Linked DNA regions of Homo sapiens. The protein of the gene in region 1 purifies or fractionates together with the protein of each later gene. This does not show direct contact. Each region holds a gene or a part of one and is shown in the gene's direction. Other genes may lie near its edges.

Region 1 (5,527 bases):
CCTAACAGAAGCCTGGGGTCCCTACATTTTTGTCTGTCTGGCTTTTCCTTTTGGCAAGCAGAAGCTTTGTTCTTGGTCCCCATGCCAAGACTGAGGTGGGAGGTGCTGGTGTATATGGTCATCTACTGAGAGGGCCTTGACCACTGTTCTGTGTACCAGGTTCTTGGCACAATTTTACCCTGAGCCATCCTGTCCCAGGCCTGCCCAGGGCTTTCTGTATGTTGACCCTTAAGACTCACCTCCCACATGGACAGGCTAAGTTAGAAAGGTTCACATAGGATGGTTTTAACATTTGCAGCACTTTGGCCTCCAGAGTTTCTCCTTAGAAGGGTTTAAAACTGTTGACCAAGGACTTCGGTTTCCATAGGACTTTAAAGGAAAATCCCCCTCCTGCCATCCTCTTATGACACTAGGATGTATTCATAACCTGCTTGGTTCATGGGCTGGGGAAGTACCTATCAGATAGTGGATGTGAAGCAGCCTTGAAGAATGGAACTTTTATTAACATGTGAGGAAGCCAGTGGAGAGATTTGCTACTCCCACAGAGTGATATCCCTTCTTAACCCCTTCCCCTGCTTCAGAACCTCCTTTCCCAAGAACCAGCCCCACTAGGATCACCGTCAACTCCCTCCCAGTTTACCTTTTCTGGCCCACGTTATCTCTGCGGGGCAGGGGTCATGGGATGAACCCTGGATAGAAGTCAGCAGATGTCAGTAACTGCAGTAATACAGTGATATTGTCTAGTAATGTGAGCTGAGAGGAAGGATCCTGAGGTGAGGGAGAGGGAGGGAATTCCAGGGAAAGGCACTGTTGTGTGGAATAGCATGGATTCAGGGTGGGGTTGTATGATGGGAGGTTGGGAACAGGGAGCTGATATTAGAGGAGTGCTGGAGCAAGGTCACTGAGGACCTCACATGTGAATGGAGTGTCAACACCAGGCCCGGGGCAATGTTCAGATGTGCATGGTTGAAATCTGACAGCTGAATGGAACTTGGACATGCTGCAATTAGGATGGCCTTTTGGGACACTGTTGTGGTATTTCAGCTAAAGGCTAGGGTCTGAACTAGAGCAGTGGTGACACTGAGGAGGAGGGAATGAATGGGAAAGGTCTCAGAGGCAGAGGGGAGGACATCAGAGGAAAGCTAGAATGCCTTTGGTGACTGGGTAGAGCATGTCCTCATTCAGAATTGGGAGCACAAGGAGGAGAGGCTGATAGAGCAGGAGGGCAGAAGATGAGAAGTTTAGTTTGGTATGTCTAGAACTTGAGGTGCTTAAGGGAAATCATGGTGATGCTATGCATTTGGATGTCGGCTAGCAGCTAGGGGAGAGGCTAGGACTAGAGATCTGTGTATGCGAAGTAGTTAAACTAATGAGAAAGGAAGAATTTCAGTTTCAAATATTGGGCCTAGGACAGAGCTACTTGATAGTGCTGAATGGAGAGGAAGATGGCCCTCAAAGGAGATCTAGACCATTCCCCACTCCCACCCACTACCATCATGTTCTGGACCCTGTCTTCTTTGTTACTGACCCCTGAATTCTTCATGTAGCCCTGAGTTTTCTGGAGCCCTCACTGTGGAAGTCAAGCTGAGCTCTGTGTGGATGTGAGGTGGTAGTCCTCTCTCCACTTGGTCACCCTTTCCCCTGGGTTTGGTAGTGTGTTAGTGTCTCATATCTTTAGTGAACAGTTTTGATGTTTATTATCTGCCATTCTTGTCTCATGAATCTTAATAGAGGTTCAGTCATGAAAGCAAGGCCAGTGTGGGCCAGGTGAGAAAATGGCCCAGGTGGTCCCTTCCTCCTTGTCTACCTGACTTCCTTTGGAAGAAGCACTCTTTCAGGGGGCTTCAGTGTTCCAGGCTTGCTGTCTACCCAAGAGCTTGCTGGGCACCCAGGCGCCCTCCAGTAGGTCTGTGCTGCTCAGATAAACTGACATCTGGTTTTACACACCCTGAGCTTTGCTAGCGTGATTCTGCTCTTGGGAAGTAGATTCACTCTGCAGAATGGGTGGACAGTTTCTCAGCCTTCCTGGCCACAGGTCAGACCCTGGTTATGGAAAACCAAACCAGCAAATGCTGCCCTGGGAGGGTGTTACATCATGTGAGCTGCTAAAGGCAGGATCGTCTCCCCAGATGGCTGCCTCCCCTTGATTTCTTCACCCTCCACCTCAAGAAGGGCATTGGCTCCTCTGAAGGGACAAAAAGGTACCTAAAGGACCTTAGGCCTCCCATTCCTCAGACCCCCAGAGGCAGCAGACCCAAAGGTAGGGGCAGGGAAAGGAGGGGCCAAGACTTTTTCAGATACTCGGTTTTTTCTAAGGCCTTGACCTCAGCAGCTGAACTCATGGTCATGGCTGCCTTGGCCTTATTGTCCACTGTAGCCTCCTCCCAGAAGCCGAGTAAAGCAGCTAGGGTCCCTCCATGCTAAATAATGTAGTCAGGCGCTCTGGGTAGTCCGTCCTGCCTCATCTTGTTCTGGGGCCCCCAGTGGGGATAGCTCTCTGCTTTCGGGCTGCAGAAAAGAATTGAGTCACTTTCTGTAGGGGAGTAACACCCTTTGGGGACAGGGGTGCAGTTTTGAAGTAATGAAGGCAGTGATGTCTGGAGTGGGTGTGGGTGTTGCAGGTGAACTTGCCTCACCCAGGCTGTTCTGGGTCTTTGTACTCCAGAGTTCTGTCCTAGGCTTGCTTCTTCATTCACTCTGTTTCCCTTTCTCTTCTTTTTTTCTTTTCCTTTCTTTCTCTCTTTTCTTCTGTGTAGATGCTAATGACTTCCAGATCTGTGTCCTGCTGTGGCCTCTCCTCTTAGGATCCCAGCTGCCTGCCAACCAGCTGTGCTTGGGTGACTCCTGGGCATCTCAAAGCCCCGGTGTCTACCATCACCCATCATGGGGCTCTTGGCCTGCCCATTCAGCACGTGCATTGATGTACACACTCAGTGACTCCCATCCAAGCCTCCCCTGCACGTGCCTGGAGAGACCTGCCCATTGGACTCATCTTGGACTCAGTTCTGCCAATACTTTCTCCCTTCTAAGAGCATTTCCAGTTGGGCTGGAGTTACCCAGCTGCCTGAGAGGTCTCTTTCTGAATGAAGTCAATATCTAAAGTCAAAATTAATCATTCAAAATATTCCCTTACCCCATTTTTTTTGGGGGGGAGATGGGGGTCTTGTGTTGCCCAGGCTGGTCTTGAACTCCTGGCCTCAAGCGATCCTCCCACCTCAGCCTCCCAAAGCTCCCCTTAACCTCAGTTTTGATCCCATCCTCCATTTGGGCATTGCTCAGCTCCCCCACCTGTTAATAGCAAACACCAATCTCAAGCCCCTGCCCCAATCTGCTACAAGGGGTTAGTGTTCCATGCAGTGGGAGTGCAGGGAAGGCTTTACAGGAGAGGAGGGAGTTGAAATGGGCCTGGAGGCCTGGGATGGTAGACACTGGATCCTTTTCCCCCACAGCTCCTGGCTGTTTCTTCACACTCCCAGCATCACTATTACTGCTAGCATGTCTTTAGCATCATTTTGCCCTCCCTCTGACTTTCAGCAAGCCTGCACTTACCTCCAAATAAATGCATGTTTTCGGGGGGCAAAGGCAGGTTCCTTCCTTACCTTATTGTTGCTTCCCCCACCCCATGCTGCAGCTGAGTGGGTGACCTTTCTCCTCACCTCCGTGTGCCGCATCTCTCACCTAGTCTCTGTTAGGAACCCTACAGGAGCCTGCACCCCAGTAACCCCATTTTATGCTGCTTGGAGGAAGAGACAGAGAGTTTGAGAGGTCCCAGTTCTTTTCAGTGTGTGTTTGGTTCCCCCACTTCTCAAAGCTGAGAGCTTCTTTGTTTTAAGAGCCACTTGGTTAAGTCAAGAGCATTAGAAGAGTAAAAAGAAGAATACAATTAGATAATTTTACCTAAACATGCTATAGTCGACTAGGGAGTCACATAGACATTGATTTTCTAATGAGGGCGCTGTTGGTGATTCTTTTTGTGTGTAAAGATGCTTCTGATCATGCCTGCTATTACATGATACTTATTTCTAAAGTCACTTTTTTTTTTTTTTTTACATTTTCATTGTAGAAAAATATCCCATAAAAATTGTGCCCCCTAGAGGGCGAGGGCCACGGGAAGGGGGATCAGGAAAACAAGAATCAGTCTCTAAGCTGGTCCTGGAGCAGCATGACAGATGTATCTGAGCCCAAGCAGGAGAGGAGCCACAGGCCCAGGCTGGCAGAGTTGTGACTACTAGAATCTCGAGTCACTGGGGCTCAGGGAGCCCTAACTTGGTGGCAGGTGACAAATGTGGCACAAAGGAGAAAGGAGTCTTCTCCTTCCACATAGAACACACTTGGCTTCAGTGCTTTGGGGGGATTCGTGGACCACAGAGAAGCTTCCGCATATTTATAGGCACTGGGGACCAGCAGGAAGTGGTGGTGAGACACTTTGAAACCCTCCACTGCAGACTTCACCCAGGGGGCAAGGCAGGAGAGAATCCCTCTGTGGACAGCACTTGAGAGGAAAGGGCTTGTTCATGACCACGTATGAGGTCGCCAACCCAACCCTGTTCCTGAAGTTTCCCAGAAATAGATGGAGAGGTAAGGCCAGCTAGGCTGGAGCGCCAGCATCAGTAGTAGGGGCAGGAGCTCACGCTAAACCCGGTTGGTGTGTCCTGGAGAAGCACAGGTGTCATCTCCAGGGACCTTTCTCGACCAACTAATTTATGGAAATGAGACATTTGTAATTGATTTTAATTCCCTCTTAGGGACTGTGAAATTAAAATGGATTAAATTTTGTCCATCAGGAGCCTCAGGGATTTAATGTCCAATTCTAAAACCTGAACAGGCCCTTTTGTTTTGCAATTTGTGGACCAATCCCTGGCTTCATTTTATTTGGCTTTGCTTTCACTTCCCCATTTTCTGTTATTTTTTTTTTTTTTGTGCTGTTATGTACATCTCTTAAAGCTGGTCAAATCATATTTTGGGATGGAATGGCCTGATAAGTTAATAAATTATATTAAACTGCCAAAAAAGGAATGTGTTTTCGATTCTTCTGGCTTCTTCCTGGTTACACCAAAAGCATGGGGGAGAAAAGGAAGGGAAGTCATCGAGACACAGGTTGTCAGGGAGATTGGGGCCAAGGTCTCAAGCCCCTTGTGCTGGGCAGGTGTCTTCTTTTCATTGTTCCCTGTGGTCCTTCAGACATGGGTGGCTCTTCAGGCATGTCCACAACCCCAGGAGCCATGGCCTCAGTGGCCGGTGCAACTGGCCGGAGCCACAGTGGCTCCGGGTGTCGGGGCTGTCCTTTTGTCCCTTTGATCTTACGCAGGGTGAGGGAGCCAATCACGAGAGGCTCACCCCTGACGTCACCCAGTCCCCAGGGCCAGTGAGGGCCCTGCGTTCCATGGGGCCCCCTGGAGGGAGGAGTGGCATCTCAGTCTGCTGGTCCCTATGCATCTACTTTGATATGTCCCTCAGGATCCCTGTGCTAGGAAACCAGAGGTGTCTGAAATCCAAATAACACAAGGATAATTATGGATGAAAACAT
Region 2 (7,588 bases), on another chromosome or scaffold:
AACTGACATCTCTCATGGGTTGGCTATGCCACATTCAGGAGCCAAGGCGGAAGTGTGGACCCATCGCTGTCCAACACATTTCCAGAAGGCCTGGCCTCCTGGTGCAGATGCTTGCTGGCCTGTTTTCCTCTGAATAAAGAAGAGAAGGGTCAGGTGTTGCAGGTCAGATCAGCCTGGGTTAGAATCCTGGTTCAGCAGTTGGGTGCGGTGGCTCATGCCTATAATGCCAGCACTTTGGGAGGCCAAAGCAGGAGGATCACTTGAGCCCAGGAGTTTGAGACCAACCTGGGCAATAGAGTGAGACACAGTCTCTCCAAAAAAAAAAAAAAGTTTAGCTGGGCGTGGTGGCATATGCCTGCAGTCCCAGCTACTCAGGAGGCTGAGGCTGGAGGATTGCTTGAGCCTGGGAGGTTGAGGCTGTAGTGAGCTGTGATCACAGCACCGCACTCCAGGTGCCGCGACAGAGTGAGACCCTGTCTCAAAAAAAAAAAAAAAAATCTTAGTTCTGCTACTGAACTAGCAATGTGACACTCTGGACAAGTTAGTTACCCTCTCTGAGCCTCCCAAAGACTTCATGTTTCCAGCAGGAATAATGATAGTAGATGTGAGGACGCACCAAGCACATAGTAGGCTCTCACAGAACAGTAGCTGTTCACAGGGTGATTGAGGCCGGGGGCCTAACGATTGAATGGAAGTGAACACTGCAATTCTCTCGCAAAGTTTACAGCACAGTAAGCTTGTCCTTAGCTTCCCCTATACCCTCCTTCCCACGCCCAATTCTAGGACCCTTTCGGGCGCCCCAGCCTCCCATAGGGGCTCCCCGCCAGCTCAGACCGGCCGGGCCCCTCCCTCTGACTCACCGGGGGCGGCTCCTGGCCGCGCACCTCCAGGGGGCGGGGGGCGGCTGAGACAGCGCCCAGGGCCTCGGAGCAAGGCGTTGGCAGGCAAGTAGTGCGCTTCGGGGTCCGGTCGCCGGGGACCTGGGCTCCCCATGTAGGGGTCGAACGGGCTTAGCCGGTTCGGGGGCGCCCCGCTCCCTCCTCTTCTCCCACAGCCGGGGTCCTCTCTTAGGGGCGCGCCGTCTCCTGGCTTCCTGTAAGAAAAGGCGGGAGAGGGTGGGTCCGTGCTAAAGAAATACTTTATTTTACTTCATTTGGGACAAACTAAGCAGTAGTGCTCAGGGGAGACCACAAGGGTAGGAACACTGTGCGTCTGGTAAAAAAACTAGTTCTAGAGCGTCGTTACCAGATAACTCATTAGCATGTGCATTGAGTTCCTAGCCGCTCCCGAGAGTCCTAGGCTGAGCGACCGGCCCTTTTGTTTCGCTGTTGTTGTTGTTTGTTTTTTGAGACGGAGTTTTGTTTTTATTGCCCAGGCTGGAGTGCAGTGGCGAGATCTCGGCTCACCGCAACCTCCGCCTCCCGGGTTCAAGCGATTCTCCTGCCTTAGCCTCCCGAGTAGCTGAGATTATAGGCGCCCGCCACCACGCCCAGCTAATTTTTGTATTATTAGTAGAGATGGGGTTTCGCCACGTTGGTCAGGCTGGTCTCGAACTTCTGACCTCAGGTGATCCGCCCGCCACGGCCTCCCAGAGTGTTGGGATTACAGGCGTGAGCCACTGCGCCCAGCCAGTTGTTTCGCTGTTAATGTGTAAACCTCTCCCCTTTTTTCCTGTGGTGATAGGAGAGGCTTTAGCCTAGACAGCTGAGTGTGAGGAACAGTGATTCCCATTGATCCTTGTTCCCTCCGTGGGTCACAGAGTCCAGAACTTAAGAGCCACCCAAGGTATGCGCTGTTGTGACCAAAATCTATGAAGCTTTCCAGCGCTGGGGCTGGGGATGGAAATAGGAGAGTGCTCTGTGGTTTAACTTTCTTTCCTCCTGTGGAGAAACCGGGAGCTAGGGGAGTGGCCAGGCACATTTCTACCTCAGGTGCTGATGGCACATTGCAAACTAAAGGGAAGAGAAAGAAGTCTGGGTTTATCGAGCATGTATTATTTGCTCATTAATCATAGGATCTCATTTCATCTTCACATTTAACTGTATGCACGTGTTACAGATTGGGGCACAGGGAGGCTCCAGGAGGTTAAGTCACTTGCACAGCTAGTAAGGAGCCAAATTGTCTAGCTCTTATCACTCTACCAGGTTAACCGCCCAGCCTGTGGTTTTGTGGGGACTAGGCCCTACTGGGATTCTCACCCAGACTATCCTTTTTTTTCTTTTTTAAACTTTTAAGTTCAGGGGTACATGTGCATGTTTGTTATATAGGTAAACTCGTGTCATGGGGCTTTGTTGTACAGATTATTTTGTCTCCCCGGTATTAAGCCTAGTACCCATTAGTTATTTTCCTGAATCTCTCCCTCCTCCCACCCTCCACCAAACTACCCTATTATTATTGTTATTATTATTATTTTTTGAGACTGAGTCTTGCCCAGTCACCCAGGCTGGAGTGCAATGGCGCAATCTCGGCTCACTGCAACCTCTGCCTCCCGGGTTCAAGCGATTCTCCTGCCTCAGCCTCCTGAATAGCTGAGATTACAGGCATGCGCCACCACCCCCGGCTAATTTTTTGTGTCTTTAGTAGAGATGGCGGTTTAACCATGCTGGCCAGGCTGGTCTCGAACTCCTGACCTCATGATCCACCCGCCTTGGCCTCCCAAAGTGCTGGGATTACAGGCGTGAGCCACCGCGCCCGGCCCATATTACCCTATTTTTAAGCCTGGCAGTTTGGCCATGGAGACACTTGGATGCTAGCTACAGGCCATGTTCTTTGGGGAGAAGATTTAACTTCCCGTCTTGCTCTAGTGAAATTTTATCAATTTCGTTTCAATGAGAAACATTCATCCAGTATTGCTTTTTTTTTTTTTGAGATGGAGTCTTGCTTTGTCTCCCAGGCTGGAGTGCAGTGGCGCCATCTCGGCTCTCTGCAGCCTCCGCCTCCTGGGTTCAAGTGATTCTTCTGCCTCAGTCGCTCCAGTAGCTAGGATTACAGGCACCCATGACCATGCCCGGCTAATTTTTGTATTTTTAGTAGAGACAGGGTTTCACCATGTTGGCCAGGCTGGTCTTGAACTCCTGACCTCAGGTAATCTGCCTGCCTCAGTCTCCCAAAGTGCTGGGATTACCGGAGACAGCCACCATGCCCAGCCTATCCAGTACTGTATTTTCTCCAGACTTTTCCCACGCAGTCAAATAATGAGGTTTTGTTTGAAGGTCTGCTAATTAGGAAGATTTGTTCCAGATTTTGCTCCAGGGTCCCCAGGCCTTGACCCTGAACCTGGAGCCTTGTCTCAAGCCAGCCTGCTGACCAATACCTTTCCAGGACAGGCCGGCTAGGTTCTGGGCAGAGGAACTACGCTTGTGTGGCTGCATAACTGGGTGCTCACTTTCTCCTGGAGCCTCATACTGAGTCCGCTCATCCTTCCCCCAGGGATTCAGAAGGGAATGGGAGCCTCCCTTGCAGGGGCTTCCACTCCCTGTGTGTTTGTGGGCAGTCTCTTGTGCTCTCAGGACCTCGGTGTCCTCCAGAAAGCCAGCGAGTTGGAGGAGACAAGCTCTAGGGTCTAGTGACTGTGATGTAGGCAGGATAGTTGCCCTGGGTCAACCCAGGATGGGCTGTCTCTCAGAGGGCCCAGGGCCCAGAAGTCATGATGATAAACATCTGGTGAATGAGAAGCAGACCAAAGGGTAGAGACCTGAGAGGCATCAGCATGGCATGCGGAAGATGGTGAAGAATGTTTTATGGCCTCAGCCATTCCCTGAGAACTGAGCTTAGCCAGGTGCAGTAGCCCACGCCTGTAATCCCAGCACTTTGGGAGGCCAAAGTGGGAGGATTGCTTCAGTTCAGGAGTTCTAGACCAGCCTGAGTAGCAAGACTCTGTCTCCAGAAAAAATAAAAAAATTAGTCGGGCATGTTGGTGCAGGCCTGTGGTGTCAGCTGCTCAGGAGGCTGAGGCAGGAGGATCGCTTGAGCCCAGGAGTTCAAGGCTGCGGTTAGCGGTGATAATGCCACGGCACTCCAGCTTGCGTGACAGTGAACCCTGTCTCAGGAAAAAAAAAAAAACAAAAAAAACCAAAAAACTGATCTTAAAAAAAATCAAATACTTGCATTCAGGGCAAGGAGAAAGACAAACTGAGGGAGGAGGAAAAAGTAATGTGAAGCCAGTGACCCTGCCCAGAAAATGTGACTAACCCAGCAGCGGTGGGGGCTGTGCCGCGCCTGCCCCAGGCCCTGAATGGAGAACATGGCTTTCCTTGCTGGTCTCAGACTCAGAGATGCCCTCCCTGATTTGCCTTGGCTGTGACCTGCAGCGGGCTGAGGCCACTGTGGTGGGGCTGTGTGGACCTCCAGCCTCCCTGTGTGCCCCTCTGAGGAGACGGCCTGGCATACCCACTGCCCACCCCAGTGACTGCTCTTCTGCTTCAGGCCTGCTGGCCTCCCAGCACTGCCTGCCCCTCCCTGTCGGGGGACATCGCCTCCACACCGGCTGGGGAAGGAGCCCAGGGGTGGGGCTGGTGGGTGGGGCTGGTGGTTGGGGCAGCCAGAGAAGTAAGAGGGAAGTGAGAAGCCGGGTGGGGCAGGCTGGAAGGAAGACGAACCTACGAAGCAGAGGTAGGAGGAAGAAAGGAAAGTAGGAGTGTTGAAAGGTGAAGGTGGCAGGGTGGCTGCCAGCGCGGCTGGCTGGTACCCTCCTGGGTGGGCAGGCGAGGGCTGGCTGTGGTGGCCTGGGAACAGAGACCCACATTTCTGGATACCACATTGTGCCAGGGTGGAGTTCCCCCAGCCTGCTGTCCTGCCAGCCTTATGCCAGGCTCCAGGCACCTGATCTGATGGCAGCTGTGAAGCTGCCCGGGAGGATGGGTGGGCTGTGCCCATGCTGCACATGGAGGAACTCTTGGGTCAGGGCTTGTCCCAGCTGTGCCAGACCTCCTGACGGAGGCCACCACACTGCTCCTGAAGGCCCTCAGCCAGACTGGAGGTGAAATCAGATTAGAAGCTGCCTGTCCCCAAGACAGGACTGTGGTGTGATGCTATTTGGGTGGGAGTGGCTTGGGGAGGGGGCAGGGCAGTCCTAGCCATTTGAATTCAAATGCAAGTGGCACATTTGATTATTTTGCAAACTCTGGAAGACCTTGGCTGAGGGTCTAGGTGGACTGTCTGAGGTAGGAGGTGGGGAGGGAGGAAGTGGTTGACCCTGGGGAAGGGTAGGAGACCTATTTGGTATCAGGGGAAAAACCATTTGGAATCCCCAAATGAGGCCTCTGGACCTAGATTCTGAGAATGCCATGTCCCAGGCTGGGAGATTCAGTTTGGTTTCGAGGGTGGGCACCTACCTCCACCAGGAGAAGTGGAGGTGCTGTTTCATTTCACACCTAGGGGCAAGCAGGGACTGTGAAGGGAAGAGACCTATTGGGGGTCAGTGGAATCAGGGTCTGAGGAAGGCAAAGGTACCACTGGACCCCGGCAGGATTTTTGTCCCTCTGATGGCTGTCAAGTCTTTCCTTAAAGGTGTGTGTAACGGTGACCTCCTCTCCGAGGTCCCCCAGTGTGTCCTCAAAGACAGCCTAAGTCAGGACCATGGGACAGCCAGCAGGACTTGCGTCCTCCCCTCCCCCAGCCCCATGGCAGTCTGGGACCCCTAGCCCCTGCTCTCTGCCTCCTGGGGCTGCTCCAGCCTGTCCCAGCCTTTTGAAATCCTGGGCTATCCCTTAGGTGCCACCCCAGTCTAATAATCAGAGCCCAGCAGGTCCAGTTAATCAAATGCATTCTTTGAGCACCTGCATGAGGTTCCAGCTAGATCCAGAGGCAAAATACACTTCCTGCCCTAAAGGACCCTACAGTGTAGTAGTGGAGGTAGGCGGGTCCATAACTCACCACACTATGGCAGAGTGGGGAAAAGTAAAGGCTTTAAGAGGTGTAGAAGAGGCTGTTTGGTAAGGTGGTGAGTTTCCCATCACTGGAAGCCTTCAAGAAGAGGATGGTAAGGGATGCTATAGAAGAGATTTCTGCACTATGCGTGTATGGGTATGTGTAGGGCGGTGCAGGCAGAGCAGGACTAGATAAGAACTTTAGCGCTTTCTTTTTTTTGTTTTATTCCTCCCCCCCGGCCCCAGCTCCCCTCTTCAACTTTAGCACTTTCTAATGCTGACATCTGTGATTCTGTGACATTCCCCACTTAGAGGAAGTTCGTCTGCGGTTTCACTGGGTATGGTGGCTCCCTTGTTCACTGCACCCTGCAGCTAAACCATAAAACATGGGCTATTCTTTGTCTCTGTGCATGTCACCCCCAGTGCCAAGCCCCCAGCACAGACGTTGAGTGGAATGGAATAGACTCTTTGCTGGGCTGCTTGAGGAACAGAGGCATCAGGTGTGTCCTTGCTCCAGTTGAGATGTGAAGCAGCCAGTTTATGCTATAAAACAGGCTAAAGTATGTGCTCCCAGGGGAGAGGGCTGGGAGAACTCCCAGAGAAGGCGGAGGCCACTTAATGTCCTGGAAGTTTCCTTGGACAGCTGGGGCTTGATACGGGCCTGGAAGGATAAGGGGGCTTGTGTGTGTGTGTGTGTGTGTGTGTGTGTGTGTGTGTGTGTGACAGATTCTTCCTCTGTTGCCCAGGCTAGAGTGCAGTAGTGCCATCTCGGCTCACTGCAACCTCTGCCTCCCGGGTTCCAGCAATTCTCCTGCCTCAGCCTCCTAAGTAGCTGGGACTACAGGCACGCACCACCATGCCTGGCTAATTTTGTATTTTTAGCAGAGATGGAGTTTCACCATGTTGGCCAGGCTGGTCTTGAACTCCTAATCTCAAGTGATCCACCCGCCTCAGCCTTCCAAAGTTCTGGGATTACAGGCATGAGCCACTGTGCCCAGCCTAGGATGAGGGGGCTTTAATGGATGTAAGGGTGAACATGGACACTGAGGAAGCTCAAGGAGCTGTGGGCTTGGACAGAGGGCTGGGATAGGGGAAAGAATGAAAGGCCAGAGGTCAGGGTGGACCCTTCCCCAGGAGAGACTGGAACAAAAGGTCTCGGGACAGAGATCTAATGAGGCAGCAGGAGTTTCAACCCTGACCAAGCATTAGAGTCATCTGGAGCTTCTCAAACACTGACATCCAGGCTCCACCTAGAGAGTCTGGTTTTAATGAGTCCAATATGGAAGCTAGTCACTGGGGTTTTTCTTTCTTATTTTTCTGTAAATTACTTTTTTTTTTTTTTTTTTTTGAGACAGAGTCTCACTCTGTCACCCAGGCTGGAGTGCAGTGGTGTGATCTCGGCTTACTGCAACCTCCACCTCCCAGGTTCAAGCAATTCTTGTGCTGCAGCCTCCCAAGTAGCTAGGATGACAGGTGTGCGCCACCACGCCCAGCTAATTTTTGTATATTTTGTAGAGACAGGATTTCACCATGTTGCCCAGGCTGGTCTTGAACTCCTAAGCTCAAGCATTCCACCTACCTCAGTCTCCCAGTGTGCTGGGATTACAGGCATGAGCCACCATGCCTGGCTGGCACTGGGGTTTTTCAAAAGCCCCCAAATGATTCTAATGTGCAGGTGAGCATTTGACACTGTTCTGGACAGAATTCACTGGCACTACTAC
Region 3 (6,927 bases), on another chromosome or scaffold:
CCTAAACAGGGAAAAGTCACCGTCCTTATGGAGCTTCTACTCTAGCTTTTATACTGAAATACCTTTTGGTCAGTAATCGTGTGTGTGTGTATGCATGTGTGCATTTTGAGGCTTTTATTTATAAAAGAAAACATAATATGCCTGGAAGCTAATAGGTGCTCATTTAAGTGTGTGATCTCTGGCTGCTTAGAAGGCCTATATAGGAAACTCAACCCTAATTAAAGAAAAAAGTTATGTGAAATTACATGAACACACTGGTGCAGGACCATGTAAATATTAGCAGCATGGTTAGGAGTGAGATTCTGTCTCAAAAAACAAAGAAAAAAAAAAGGCTGGGTGCGGTGGCTCACACCTGTAATCCTAGCACTTTGGGAGGCCAAGGTGGGCGAATCACCTGAGGTCAAGAGTTTGAGACCAGCCTGGTCAACATGGTGAAACCCCGTCTCTACTAAAAATACAAAAATTAGCCAGGCATGGTAGCACATACCTGTAATCCCAGCTACTCAGGAGGCTGAGGCAGAAGAACCACTTGAACCCAGGAGGCAGAGTTTACAGTGAGCTGAAATTGCATCACTGCACTCCAACCTGGGTGACAGAGCAAGACTCTGTCTCAAAAAAAAAAAAAAAAAAGAAGAAGATAAAGTATATGGGAAAGCACAAGACTTGGAATAGTTAAAATAACTTTGAAAAAGAAAAAAAGTGGCCGGGCGCAGTGGCTCATGCCTGTAATCCCAGCACTTTGGGAGGCCAAGGCGGGTGGATCATGAGGTCAGGAGATCGAGACCATCCTGGCTAACATGGTGAAACCCTGTCTCTACTAAAAATACAAAAAAAAAAAAAAAAAAAAAAATTAGCTGGGCATGGTGGCGGGCGCCTGTAGTCCCAGCTATTCGGGAGGCTGAGGCAGGAGAATGGCGTGAACCCGGGAGGTGGAGCTTGCGGTGAGCCGAGATCGCGCCACTGCGCTCCAGCCTGGGCAACTGAGCAAGACTCTGTCTCAAAAAAAAAAAAAAAAAAAAAAAAAGTGGGAGGAATAACTGCACCTGATGTTGTTACTCTGTAGCCGTGGTAACCCAATGTGGTATTGGCAGACACATAGATCAGTGGAACGGAATCGAGAACCCGGAAATAGACCTGCAAAGATATTCCTGACTGATTTTTTAAGGAGCAAAAGCTATTCAATGCAGGAAAGATAGCCTTTTCCAGATGGTGCAAGAACAATTGGCCATCTGTGGTGTAATAAAACCTACATTTCATCTTTTTTCTTTTTTTTTTTAGATGGAGTTTTGCTCTTTTGCCCAGGCTGGAGTGCAGTGGTGCGATCTCAACTCACTGCAGCCCCTGCCTTCCAGTTTCAAGCTGCCTCAGCCTCTCGAGCAGCTGCAATTACAGGCACCTGCCACCATGCCTGGCTAATTTTTGTATTTTTAGTAGAGCCAGGGTTTCACCATGTTGACCTCGTGATCCGCCCGCTGGCCTCCTAGAGTGCTGGGATTACAGGCATGAGCCACCGCGCCTGGCCCTTACATTTGATCTTTATCCCTGGTTCCTGGCACAGAGCTAAAAGCCTTGGAATTTTGTGAATAATAGGAATAGGGTTTGCAATTCATAAGGAGCCCGTTTCGACCACACCTGAGTTTATGCTAATGAGGTGACTCCAGTGGGACCCATAGATATCTTCAGGATGGGGATAGTCACCTTAAAGAAGGTATGGACCCTCTCTCTGCCCCACGATTGAGAGAGCTGGGTTGGTGAACACATCTGAGTGCTGGGAGGATGGCTCACCCAGACGGTACATGGATGCACTGCACCTTCAGTGCCCCTGACCAGACCTTAGCTGTGCATCTCTTCCATTTGGCAGTTCCTGAGTTATATCCATTAAAATAAACTGGAAAGACTGGGCATGGTGGCTCATGCCTGTAATCCCAGCACTTTGGGAGGCCATGGTGGGAGGATTGCTTGAGCCCGGGGGTCTGAGACCAGCCTTAGCATTATAGTGAGACCCCATCTCTTAAAAAAAAAAATTAGCTGGGTATGGTAGCGCACACCTGTAGTTCCAGCTACTCGGGAGGCTGAGGTGAGGATCACTTGAGCCTGGAAGGTCAAGGCTGCAGTGATTCATGATGGCACCACTGCACTCTAGCCTCAGTGACAGAGTGAGACCTTGTCTCAAAAAAAAAAAAAACATAGCTTTCAAAACTGAGCAATTTTTTTAAAAATTAGAAAATGGGCAAAAGATACGAACAGATACTTTAATGAAGAGGGTATACAAATGCCAAAAAAATCATTAAAGTGTGCTCAAACTTGTTAGCAATTAAGGGAAATGCAAATTGAAACCACAATGATATATCAGTACATACCTATCAGAATGGCCAAAATAAAAAATAGCAAAACACAAATGCTGATAAAAATGTGAAGTGGATTCACACATTCATTGGTGGTGGGAGTGTAAAATGGTCCAGCTACTCTGCATGAGAGTGTGGCAGCTTCTTACAACACTAATAAGCACGTGTTCATTGTGTGACCTAGAAACTGCACTCTTGGGCTTTTATCCCAGAAAAGTGAAAACTTACGTTCACAGAAAAATCTGTACACGAATGTTCATAGCAGCTTTATTTTTAATAGCAAAATACTTAAAACGATCCTAATATCTCTCAGTGGGAGAAGGTTTAAACTGCTATATACCATAGAATACTACTTCTCAATAAAATGGAATGAACTGTTGATACATACTACTTCAATGCCTCTCAAAGGAATTATGTTCAGTGAAAAAGCCAATCTGAAGAGGCCACATACTGTATGATCCCACTTATATGACACTGTGAAGGCAAAATTGTAGCAGTGGACTACTTAGATTAGCTGTTCCTGGGGTTATGGGTGGGGAGGGAGTGACTACCAAGAGGCAGCAGGAGGATTTTTGGGCAGTGGAGCTATTCTTTGTCCCGAGTTTGTTGGTGGATATGAGTTAAAATTCATAAAACTGAATACCAAAATGTGTGGTGTATGTAAATTTAAAATATATAAACTGTTCAGATATACATTTTAAAAATCAGTTCACACAAAAACGACCAAAATGGCATCCTCATAAGCGCCTCTATCTGGAAAACTGAAATGGGAAGCAGCTCCTGGCCCTATCCTGCCTTCCAGGGGGGCTACATTTATATGGGGCTTTGCCAAAGCCCTCACCCCAGCTGCCACTCACATTTCCCTCATTTCAGCAGCTCCTGAATCCCTGGGGTGGGTAATCTTTGAGTTCTATCCACTCCTTGAAACTGTAGAACCCATTTTAGCGCATCAGTGTCTCTGGGTCTCCACCTCTTGTCTCCCCAGTACTGGGTCTGCTGGTCCCTGTCTCTGTATCTCTGTCCAGATCTGTCTCAGCCTCGAGTGCTCCTTTTCTCTGGGTCTCTCTCTTTTCCTGAGCCTGAGCTGGTCTCTTTCTTTTCTTGAGCCCATGCTGGTCTTTCCCTTTCTTGATCCTGGGCTGGTCTCCCTCCTTTCTTAACCGTGAGCTGGTCTCTCCCTTTCCGTGTCCGACTCTGTACATCTCTGTTTCGGGGACCCCAGGGCGTCTTGGTCTGCCCCCGAGCGTCTGTGGGCCTTCATGCTTCTCTCCCTCCCGGTCTGCGCGTCTTTTTGTCTTTGTTTCTCCGTTTCTCACCGTCTTTGTTTCTCCGGGTCTCTGGCTGTCAGGGGTCTATTATTTACCCGCTTGTTTACTTCGTTGCCATGGTGCCCAAAATGACGCAGGCGCCGGAGTGGGCGGGACGCCGGGAGGCCACACTCGCGTCTGATTGGCCATGCGCACTGTCACCTGTCACGGCTCCCTTGCTCGCCCCGGTGCGCGGCACAGCCTCGCGGCATTGTGGGAGTCGTAGTCCGCGGTGAGGCCCAGTGCGCAGGCGCAGTTTGCCGGCCGCCATCGCGCACTGGGGCTCCGGGCGGCTGGGACCGGCCTGGGGTAGCTGCGCAGCAGGTGGGTCGGTCCCGGGGATGCAGCGCGGGGGTCAGAGAGCGACCCCAACAGGGTAGACGGTGAGGACGCCTCAGTGGGCAGCGTTAGGGAAAGGGGCCAGGGTGTTCCCGGGGTTGGGGTGCGAGCCCCCGCTGTGCGTCCAGGAGGCCGAGGGTCTGGCATCCCTTCGCGTGGAGTGCGGGGCAGGGGCCGGGTCCCCCCGGAGGTGGCTGAGATCCAGATCGGTGAGGGGCCCTGCAGGCAGGTAGGGAACTAGTGCAACCCCCACCCCGTGTAGGCTCGTGGAGGGGAGGCGCTTAGGGCACCCTGTGGGTGGGAGAACAGGAAGGGGCGGCTCCTGATGGGGGAGAGATGAGGGAGGGGGAGGCTCCTGATGGGGGAGAAAGGGGGGAGGGGAAGGCTCCTGAGGGGGGCGAAAAGGGGGAGGGGGAGGCTCCTGAGTGGGGAAGAGAAGGGAGGGGGAGGCTCCTGAAGGGAAGAGGAGGGGAGGAAGTGGGGGCTGAGGGTGTGAGGATGTGAGGGTGTCCGTGGTGGGGGGACGCTGGGCAGGCTGTGGCCCCAGGGGCTGGAGCAGGGAAGGGATGGAGGGTGCGGGGACCAAAGGGGTGCCTAGAATGGGCATTGTCTCTGCTGCCCCCACCCTTGGAATATCTCGCCTCTCCCCAGTCACCTGGGGGTGGGTTCTGTTTGAGTTAGGTGTCTGCGCCCACCCCGGAGACCTCTCTCGTGGAAGAGGCAAGAGTGGGTGTACTGGCTTCGGTCCTGACCCAGGGGGTTGGGGTGGGGGCCTGACTCACCCTCCCATCACTCCTTCCCCATTTCCTTTCTCTCACCCTCCTGGGCTCCTTCCTTTTCCCAATCCCCCTCTACCCCCGTCCAGACTATCTGGCTTTCCCTGCTCTTGCTCCTTCCTCTCCTGTCTTCTCTCTCCCTGCTACCTTCCCTCCCCGCTTCCCCCATTTCTGTCTGCCCTCCTTCCACTTTCCCATATATTCGCCTGTGTCCTTGCTGACTCCTGGGCGAGGCTGAGTGGCACAGTCACTTGGTTCCATGTCACCTCCTCGGTTCCATTTCACTTCCCCCATCCCATCATGTCCTGCGGATGGTTTCCTGCCCTGGAGTCAGAGCGGGACCACGTGTCGCATCGAGTTGCTGTTTTCTGTGCATGATGCTTGAATCTGTGACTTCCTGGGTATTTCTGGCCTCGGGTTTTCGGGGAGCCTAGGCCAGTTGCGCAGGACATCTCTCTGGTTCTGTCTGTCCTGGCGAGTGGATCAGGGACCACAAAAGGCAGCTGAGATGTGAACGACGACCCTTACTCCATGTTTTTTCATTCTTTTAAAAGCACTTTTACCCCTTTTTATAATGAGTAAGTGATCTGTGGATGAAGCCAGGGCAGACCCTGGGAATATCCGGCGACCCATCAACAACCACATCCCATGCATTGAGCTTCCCTGGCTGATCCTCAGGCCTGTGGCTGTGGGGTGGTTTGCTAGACCCTGCCGATGAGTGTGGTGGGATGGAGAGCTGCGATGAATATTCCTCAGGTGGCCAGGGCTGGGCCCACGGAGGGCCAAACCAGGCTTGAGCTCTGCTCAGCCCAGGATGAAGGGGATTTGCTGCAGGACTCTGGAGACCCACCAGGCTTGGGACCCCTCAGCTCAGCCACCCCTCACCCACCGTGGAGCTCTCTGCCTCAGCTTCTGTATTCCAGGCCTCTGGGTGCAGCAAAGCCTACAGGACTGGCTCAAGACTTGTGCAGATTGCTTCATTTGCTGAGGCTGGGGGGCTGGGCTCCAGGAAAATCCCATCTGAGGCAAATCCTGGACAGTCCCAAGATTAGGGGAGGGAGGTTTGCCCAGTGACCAAGCCAGACTCCAACGAGGTGTGGCCTCATTCAAGCAGGCTGTGGCAGGAAAGGGTCCCAGTGGTATCTCTATTTTGTTTGTTTGTGAGACACGGGCTCATTCTGTCGCCCAGGCTGGAGTGCAGTGGCCAATCACAGCCTCCAACTCCTGGGCTCAAGCAGTCCTCCTGCTTAAGACTCCCCAGGCTCTGAGATTATAGATGTACGCTGCCGCACCTGCCCCGGTGAGATCTCTGAGAGTCCTCTTGACAGTGTGGCCAGGAATGGGGCTGAAGGAGGCAAGAAGACACAGGGCCAGAGATTTCTGGAGGCTCTTGAGATGGCCTCATCCTCCTGGCTGTGAGCATCAGGGTCCCAGTAGGAAGGGAGATGAACAGGGAGAGGCTGTTTTCACAGGAGGCAGCAGCTTCCTTGGAGTTGGGCGTTTTAGGAGACCCCTGGTTCCATGGAAGCTTCTGCTTTGCAGGTGAATGGAGGAAGTGGAGGCAGAGGTGGCTTCCCAGAGAGGCTCACAACTTGTAATGCTGAGGGGGAAGGGCACAGAGGCGAGGAGCTCCCGTTCCTGTCCCCAGGGGCTGACATGTGTCCCCCACTGTCTTGGCCAGTGACCCAGCCGGAGGGTGTCCCGTCCTCCCCACGTCATCCCGCCCCTGCCAATGGCCGAGGACCCTTGCTCATTCTACCTAGACCCCGATGCCTCCACCATGCTCAGAGCTGGGAAGTTGGAGCAGGAGGAGAGGGGCTGGGGGAGCTGGCTGGGATCTGCCCACTGTGGAGGCCATGAGGGCTAGAGGGGAGGGCCGGCAGGAGGCCTCTTAAAGGGCAGGCTTATGGGCCTGGACGGGGAAGGATGAGTGGCAGCGTCACTTTGCAGGTGGGGTCCCAGCCTTAGTGATTGCCTGCCTCGTGCCTCTATTTCCCACTTGCACCTTGGGGCTGCATGTGGTTCCTACCCCTCTGGGATTGTGAGGTTCTGATGAGGGAAGGTTCTGTGCACACACATTATGGAGCTCACAGTTTGTTTTGTGGAGACAGGTTCTCTGCAAGGTGAACAAGCCTCTGGCGTCCTAAGAAAGCCAAAATT
Region 4 (7,177 bases), on another chromosome or scaffold:
CCTAGTTGAGAGGAGGGCTCAGAGGAACCTAACTAAAGTTTGTTCAAGGGTGGAGTTTTTATAAATACCCACGGGAATTTCCTCAGCTTCCTAAAGGAATTGGTAGACCCACAGAACATGTAAGGCATCAGGGGGAGCATCTACATATGCTCCCAGCCTCTCCCAGTGTTGGTGGCTGCTTCCGCCTCCTCATAGCAGCTGCTCCTTGGCCTTCTGTTCAGTTCTGGGTCACGTTGTGCAGGCACCATCTCCAATCAGGTCTTGTCCATTACCTTAATTTAGAGGCTTGGGATAAAGTCTGAGTTACTGGTTTGAGCTAGGATAAGTGGATGCTTGACGATGGATGTGATCATAATGATTACTTACAGTAACACAGGCAGGCTATGGTGTTGGTCGGAAGGATGGCTGGACTTATAAGCATCCCAAACAGGCAGAAGAGGCTGTTAGGCCATTAGGAAAAGGGAGAACACTTTGGGTGAGATCTCATCACGCTAACATCAACAAAGTGGAAAGAAGGTGGGGCCACACTAGCTAAGGCAACACCACAAGAAAATGTTATTTCCCTCTGCAATTAGCACCATTACAGACCATATGAAGTACAATCAAGCACACATAACGGGAGCCAAAATAATGCTTTCATGAATTTTGTAAACTTAGTTACAGAGTCTCTGTGTAACCAATGGTAATTCAAAATATGAGCTAATGAATTATTAATGGTTTAATGGACTTGGTGAAAGTAGGATTCGATTTGGTTTTTTGGTATGTATGCGAAAATCAAAATGTCAAAGTAAGAAATCTGAAAATAAATAATTGGATTTAAAGGTTGTCTCTTACATCATAGAAGAGATTAATTTGTACGAAACACAAATACTTGTTTCTAATTTAGTTCTTGTCCTCTCTGTCCTCTAGGGCACACCTTTCCCTCACCTTGACACCTCACATTTCCCACCTCATTCTAACAGCTAAATTAGTGTCTATAAGGAATTTTCCAGACCTTCCGGGTTTCATCAACTCTATCTCCAATTCAATCCTCGTCTACACACACAGTTCAGGGGAGGCAAGATAGCGGCTACATTTTCTGTTCTTGACCTTCAGCTCCAAGGGACTGTTTCCCGGATGCTTCGGACCGAGTGTTTGGTAGTGTCTGGGGAGGACTCGGTCAGGGAGCCCCCTCCTTTCACCCTGGTACTAGGAGCTGAAGAGGCGAGATGCCAGGCGAACGGCTGAAGGCAGAGGTCTTTTTACCCCCATCTCCCTTGTCTCCCACACAAGTTGTAGGGCCCCTCCACCGTGTCTGGTCCTGAATTGGGAATGCCAGCTCCCAGCGCGGCGAGGCCCAGGTCCGGTCCTAGGTGAGTTTTTCTCTCCGGCTGGAAGACTCGACGCCGTGGATACCAGGGACCCGAGCCCTCCGGGGCTGCTGGCTTTGGAGGGATTTCCAGACGTTGCAGTCGGGGTGAGCGGAGAGACTAAGAAGTACAGGGGACTAGAGAAAGCAGATGAGGGTGAATTGTCTCATCAAGATGGGGGATAGGGAAAAGGGGCGAGAAGTAACCCGGGGCGCAAGGTCCACAGCGAAAAAAAAAAAAAAAAACAAACAAAAAAACAAACAAAAGAAACACGCCCGAGACCAAGGCTCAGCCACTTTACACGCAGGACTTGGTTGTGGCAGCGAGGAGGGCTTCGAACCTAGGAAATTTTGAGGAAGCGTTTGTCTCCATCACAGGAATTGGGTTTCCACGTTGCTGCTGGAGCTTTTCGTAAGTCGATAAGAGCAGCATCTTTCTCTTTGTCTCCAAACCCGTGAATTTGATACGCTTTGAAAGCGTTCTTCTAGGCGAAAGAGCTTGGTACTTTCATGCTTGGATAGAAGGGGAGAGTTCAATACCGTGCACGCGACCACAAAGTTGTTTTCGACGAGAATTCGATGGGAAGCGGAGGAACGAATTTTTCCCACATTCAGAGGCCAAGCCAGGAACTGTAAAACGTTCACCTTTGAAAGGTCCCACCGAGATTCGAACTCGGATTGCTGGATTCAAAGTCCAGAGTGCTAACCATTACACCATGGGACCAACCACAAGGGTACAGTAGGTAAGTATAGTCGTGGTTAAATACCTCCTTGATAATAAACTTTCTAGTTCCGATCCGAAAGAGTTAGGTCAGGCTTCAGTGAGACTCACGCTGACAGGAAAGCTGACGCTTTGCTGCTGAAGAAGGAGTAACTGTCAAAATAAAATTCAGGGAGATCTCTTCACTCTTTCCTGCGCTTTTGTTGGGAGCATAAATTAGCTTCCAGAAATCAACCGGGGCAGATTTGTGAGGTCTGAAACTTAACAATTTAGAAAGTCCTCTTTAAGAAAAAGAACAGCTGTTATCAACATAAAATTATGGGTACTCTAAGGCCTGTATGATGTATCTGAGGATAAGCTGGAGTAGGGAGAGGAAGCTGTCTTAACTAATTTTCACTATACTAGCATACTTTTGCAAATCTTACAAAATATGTTTCATACAGAGCAACCTCTTCCCAAGGCCTTGGAAAGCACAGCGCAAGGAAAGGATCTTAACACACTTTAGCGAGACTCACGATAAACATCCCTCTGGGGTGCAGATCTTTTAGCAATATCTATCAAAATAGTCTCTTCTACAGCCACTAAAAAGAATGGGATAGACATGTAACACATGTTGGCTTGGCAGTTTCTGGGGGAGGATTTAAGTTTAAAACAAACCAAAAAAGCCCAGTAACTTGGTGAATTGTAGTCTAGTATGATTTAAGTTTTGCAAATTATAATGAGTTATAATTGTGACTCAGTTATATTTGTACATAATAATATTGTACTCAATTTTGTATGTACATTTTAAAAATAGGTTGGAGGTACATACAACAAACTCGGCATCAATTTTTCTGAGGAATGGAACTGAGGATGAAGAAACTTCACTTCTTGCCACGTTGACTTTTTAAATATTTGACTTTTTTTATAAGTGTCTATCACTGTTGTAGTAATTAACAAATGCAAATCTACAAAACAAAACAAACAAAACAGTAAGGCTCGTCAGTAAAGGACTTAGAAGTCATGCTTACTCCATGTTAACTGCCTACTGTGCTCAGCATGGCAGAGATCACTGCCTTGCAGAATGAGAAAAAGGTAGTAGAATCCCTGATTGCAAAGGATAGTTAGGGGGGGAAACAAAAGATAAGTTCAGCACGTTAAAAGTGACTGGGAAAATGATCTTTTCAGGGTTGGATGACACAGGCACACAGACAAAAATTTTATACAGAATTTTACTCAAGACCATTCACGGACTCTAAGCGTAAGATTTCTTTTTTATTTAGAGATTTCTAAAAGAGATGTTCTGATTATTCAAAGACTCTCTACTCAGAAATGCCAAAATGTGAGAAATCAACATGAGGACCACAGCAGAAGGAAACAGAGAATGGAGAAGGGAACCAGGCAGCAATTCAACAAATATTCCTTGGGCATCTCTGCGCTACCAGAGGTATGGAGGAACCCAGTGACTGCTTGAAAAGAATGTTCTGGTTACTCCACTCCAGTGATTCGCTAGGCGCTGATCAGCCGTCCAGATTTTGTTAGATTTCTGGGACCAGTTTCCCACAGTTGTTTAGTCACGGCTCTGTGCTCCGTGACTAAACAACTGAGGCTCATTCTCGGTGGTCTTGGTTTTCTAATCCGTAAAATGGAAACAATGGACTAACTCTTACATTTCTTTTTAAGTCTGATTTAGGGTGAAAGGGAAAGGTGAAAGTGGCCCGAAATTAACGAGGAAAGGCGGGGGACGATCCTACAGATTCGCTGACGTGGTAGTCCTTAGGGATGCTCCTCTCCATTTTGTTTCAGGTCGCTGCGGTGAGCACCACGGGTCTGAGTGCCAGCGATGGTTTATCACGGTGACAGGAAAACACAGACCAGCAGCATCTACTCCAGCACTACTCACACTGTGGAACTCTTTTCACCGTGATGCCAGATAACTAGGTAATTCCGGAGTTAATTCTCCGTCGTTTCCAGAGTACTTGCCTCCCCAGAATTACTGGTACCGTAGGTGTTTGCACAACCAGTGAGAAGACGGCACCACCTGGAATCCTAGAGCGGACCGGAAGTGAGCGTGGCTCACCGGGCCCGGCCGGAACCTACGGGCACAGCTGCGGGTGTGTCTGCGGAACCTCCACCTGAGCTGTAGAGTGTTTCCCTCGACCCACTAGTCTGGGTTCCACAGGGTCTGAGCTCCTCAGAGGTGGGAGCTGCGGCCGAGGGAAGGGTGCATGTGCGCGGCGACAATCGGGCCTCTTCCCCAGGCAGCTTGTGAGCCCCTCTCCCTCTCCGCCCTCGCCCAGGCTGCTCCGATCTTCGTTTCCTTGCCTAGGCTCATACACCCAGGCTTTATTTAGGGCCAAAGTATCCGTCATAACCTCGGTTTTCTGTCTCGCAAGTATCTTGCCGCTCAATTTGTGACCCTGAAGCTTTAGTGAGTCGCTCTGTGCTCACTATTTCTGGTCTTTTCAGAGGATGGCTTCACTTTCAATGGAATTGCCCGAGTAACTGCCCTGTGTTGTCACGTAAACAAGTCCTTTTAAACTGAGTCTGTAGTTGTCCTGTGTTGAGTGTTTTCTTATATCAAAAACTTTCCTGACCAAGAACAAAAAAGGAGCTCAAGTAAAATCACCCATTTGCCTAGACCCCAACTGGAGAGAACCTTTGCCTGAGCTGTCTAAGCTCGGGATGGAAGCAGTCTCTAGGGTCTTCCCAGCCTTGGCTGGCCAGGCTCCAGAAGAACAAGGGGAGATTATCAAAGTAAAGGTTAAAGAAGAAGACCACACTTGGGATCAGGAATCAGCCCTACGTAGGAATTTGTCTTATACCAGGGAACTCTCTCGTCAGCGCTTCAGGCAGTTCTGCTATCAGGAGACACCTGGGCCCAGGGAGGCTCTGAGTCAACTGCGGGAACTTTGCCGTCAGTGGCTGAACCCAGAGATACATACCAAGGAGCAGATCCTGGAATTGTTGGTGCTGGAGCAGTTCCTGACCATCCTGCCTGAGGAGCTCCAGTCTTGGGTGCGGGAGCATAATCCTGAGAGTGGAGAAGAGGTGGTGACTTTGCTGGAAGATTTGGAGAGGGAGCTTGATGAACCTAGACAGCAGGTGAGAAATTGGAGGTGCCATCTTCTGTGGAGAATTTGGGTGCATGGATCCAGAATGGAGTAATGGGAGTAATTTCGCGCTGGTGGTTGGAAACCCTGGTTTGGGGCATTATTTCTTATTTGATCACTGGTGTAGATGAATAGATGCGTGCATATGAGATAACAGTTTTTGTGTATGATACAAATAATTAAATGATTTAACCAAATGGAAAAGCTTGATCTATTTTTTACCAGTAGAAAATATATTTTATGTAGTGACTATGAGATTAAAGAAATATACAATAGTAAATTTTTTTTAAAAAATTACTGTCTTTTGAAGCTATCTAGGCTCTGTTACTAATTAGCTGTGTAACCTTGGGCATATTACACCTTCTCTGGGACATTAATGTCTTCATCTGTACAATGAAAATACTAATTGCATGATTTCCTTGGTTCTTTTCAGTATCTAGAGTTGGTATGTAAAATGTTTTGAGCTCAAAATTATTTTTAGAAGAATTTTAAAAGCTTTTTGCCATTACAGTGGAGTTGTTTCTAAAGGAGTATATTTGCCTTCTTTGACAGTAATTTTAGAACATTGTGGATATTGCCAGACATTCTTATATTTTTTAGTGATACTATTCATACATTTATCTGAACTCTTTCAGAATGTGAACCCTTTATGTATACAGTCTGATCTGTTAAAAACGCATGTTTCTGGAATGCAAAATCTTTTAAAATGAGGTCAGTATGCCAGAAATGAGTCAGTATAATGCTGAAATTGTGTAAGCTCATGTATGAGTTTTCCCAGCAAGTTGATGTTTGGGGCCACCAGGTGGGAGTAGCTGAATTCAGAGTATCTGATGTAGCTGAGCACAGCAAGTCCTGAATACATACAGTACTGTACATAATTCCCATTTGCCCCCACATCCTTCCTCTGGCTGTCTTGGAAGCACTTATTTACATTGTTCCCTCCCATCTTTGTGTATTTTTTGCTAAAGTTTTTTGTATTCCAGAAAAGGAGCAAGCAGAGGGTTTTGCAAGTGCCATAGAAGTGTGCTTGTGATAAAATTTCTGCTAGTGAGTATAAAAGAAGAAAAGCTTTAACAATTGAAGACAAGTTTGAAACTATACAGTGTTTTGAAAGAAAAGAAACTGTGAGATTGGTCATGCAACTGGCATAAAGGAGTAAATGTATGTACAATTAGAGACAATGATGGGAAAAATAAAATTATCTAGCTGGAACAACTGCCAGTGTTATGAAATCTGTTGGAACAAGGAATAAGGAAATGGAGGAAATGGAGCATTTGTTAAGTGTGTGGATTGAATACCAAACAAGGAAGCAATCCAATGCAGTCTTTCTCAGAGTTAAAGAAAATACCTTCACAATGTATGGAGACATTAAGAAAAAAAGATGGAAGTCCCGCAGAAGTGCCTTCATTTAGTGGAAGTAGTGGCTGGTTTAGTATCTTCAAGAACTACTGTACTTTCCACAGTGTTAAACTGTCTGTGCAGACGAGGCTGTAAGTGCAGATGAAGAAGCTGCAAAGACATTTTCCCCTCATTAAGAAATTAGATTGATAAGGAAGGCCATCCCCTGGCTCAGATTTTTACTTTTTATGAAACCAGTCTCTATTGGAAGCAGATGCCCTCAAGGGGATATGTGGAGAATTTGGATGCATTGATCCAGAATGGAGTAAGCAGGACTGGAAGTACTCTAGAAACACACTGTGGGGTTTAAGGCTACAAAGGATCAACTGATGGTGATGCTGGGTGCAAATGCCAGTGGAATTTTAAAGCTAAAGCCTGTGATTATCATTCTGCCAATCTATAAGCTTTAAAATGAATTGTAAAGACTAGCCTTGGTGCCTACTACAGGTCTAGCAAGAGAGACTAGATGACAGGGCAGATATTTTCTGATCTTTCGGGTGATTTTTTTGTAGATTAAAAAAAAATAAAACATTGCAAGAGAAAAAAATTGTCTTTTAAAATTCTTATAATTCTCAGTGATACACCAAGCCACCCTCCAGTAGTCACTGAGCTTTCCTC

The links.
Region 2: the proteins of ZSCAN20 (region 1) and CAPG purify together in Homo sapiens (affinity purification with mass spectrometry; 3 studies listed by BioGRID and IntAct, with this or other methods). This does not show direct contact.
Region 3: the proteins of ZSCAN20 (region 1) and ZSCAN18 purify together in Homo sapiens (affinity purification with mass spectrometry; 3 studies listed by BioGRID and IntAct, with this or other methods). This does not show direct contact.
Region 4: the proteins of ZSCAN20 (region 1) and SCAND3 purify together in Homo sapiens (affinity purification with mass spectrometry; 3 studies listed by BioGRID and IntAct, with this or other methods). This does not show direct contact.

What each region holds. Positions count from the first base shown.
Region 1 is NC_000001.11:33,496,632-33,502,158, forward strand, and holds the end of ZSCAN20 (zinc finger and SCAN domain-containing protein 20), read left to right. Parts: 3' UTR 1-5,012; downstream 5,013-5,527. UniProt on the Homo sapiens protein: May be involved in transcriptional regulation.
Region 2 is NC_000002.12:85,407,340-85,414,927, reverse strand, and holds the start of CAPG (macrophage-capping protein), read left to right. Parts: upstream 1-4,561; 5' UTR 4,562-4,611; intron 4,612-4,618; exon of another isoform or gene 4,619-4,646; intron 4,647-5,115; exon of another isoform or gene 5,116-6,367; intron 6,368-7,588. UniProt on the Homo sapiens protein: Calcium-sensitive protein which reversibly blocks the barbed ends of actin filaments but does not sever preformed actin filaments. May play an important role in macrophage function.
Region 3 is NC_000019.10:58,095,223-58,102,149, reverse strand, and holds the start of ZSCAN18 (zinc finger and SCAN domain-containing protein 18), read left to right. Parts: upstream 1-3,918; 5' UTR 3,919-3,976; exon of another isoform or gene 3,977-4,220; intron 4,221-6,927. UniProt on the Homo sapiens protein: May be involved in transcriptional regulation.
Region 4 is NC_000006.12:28,584,274-28,591,450, reverse strand, and holds the start of SCAND3 (SCAN domain-containing protein 3), read left to right. Parts: upstream 1-4,152; 5' UTR 4,153-4,733; coding exon 4,734-5,153; intron 5,154-7,177.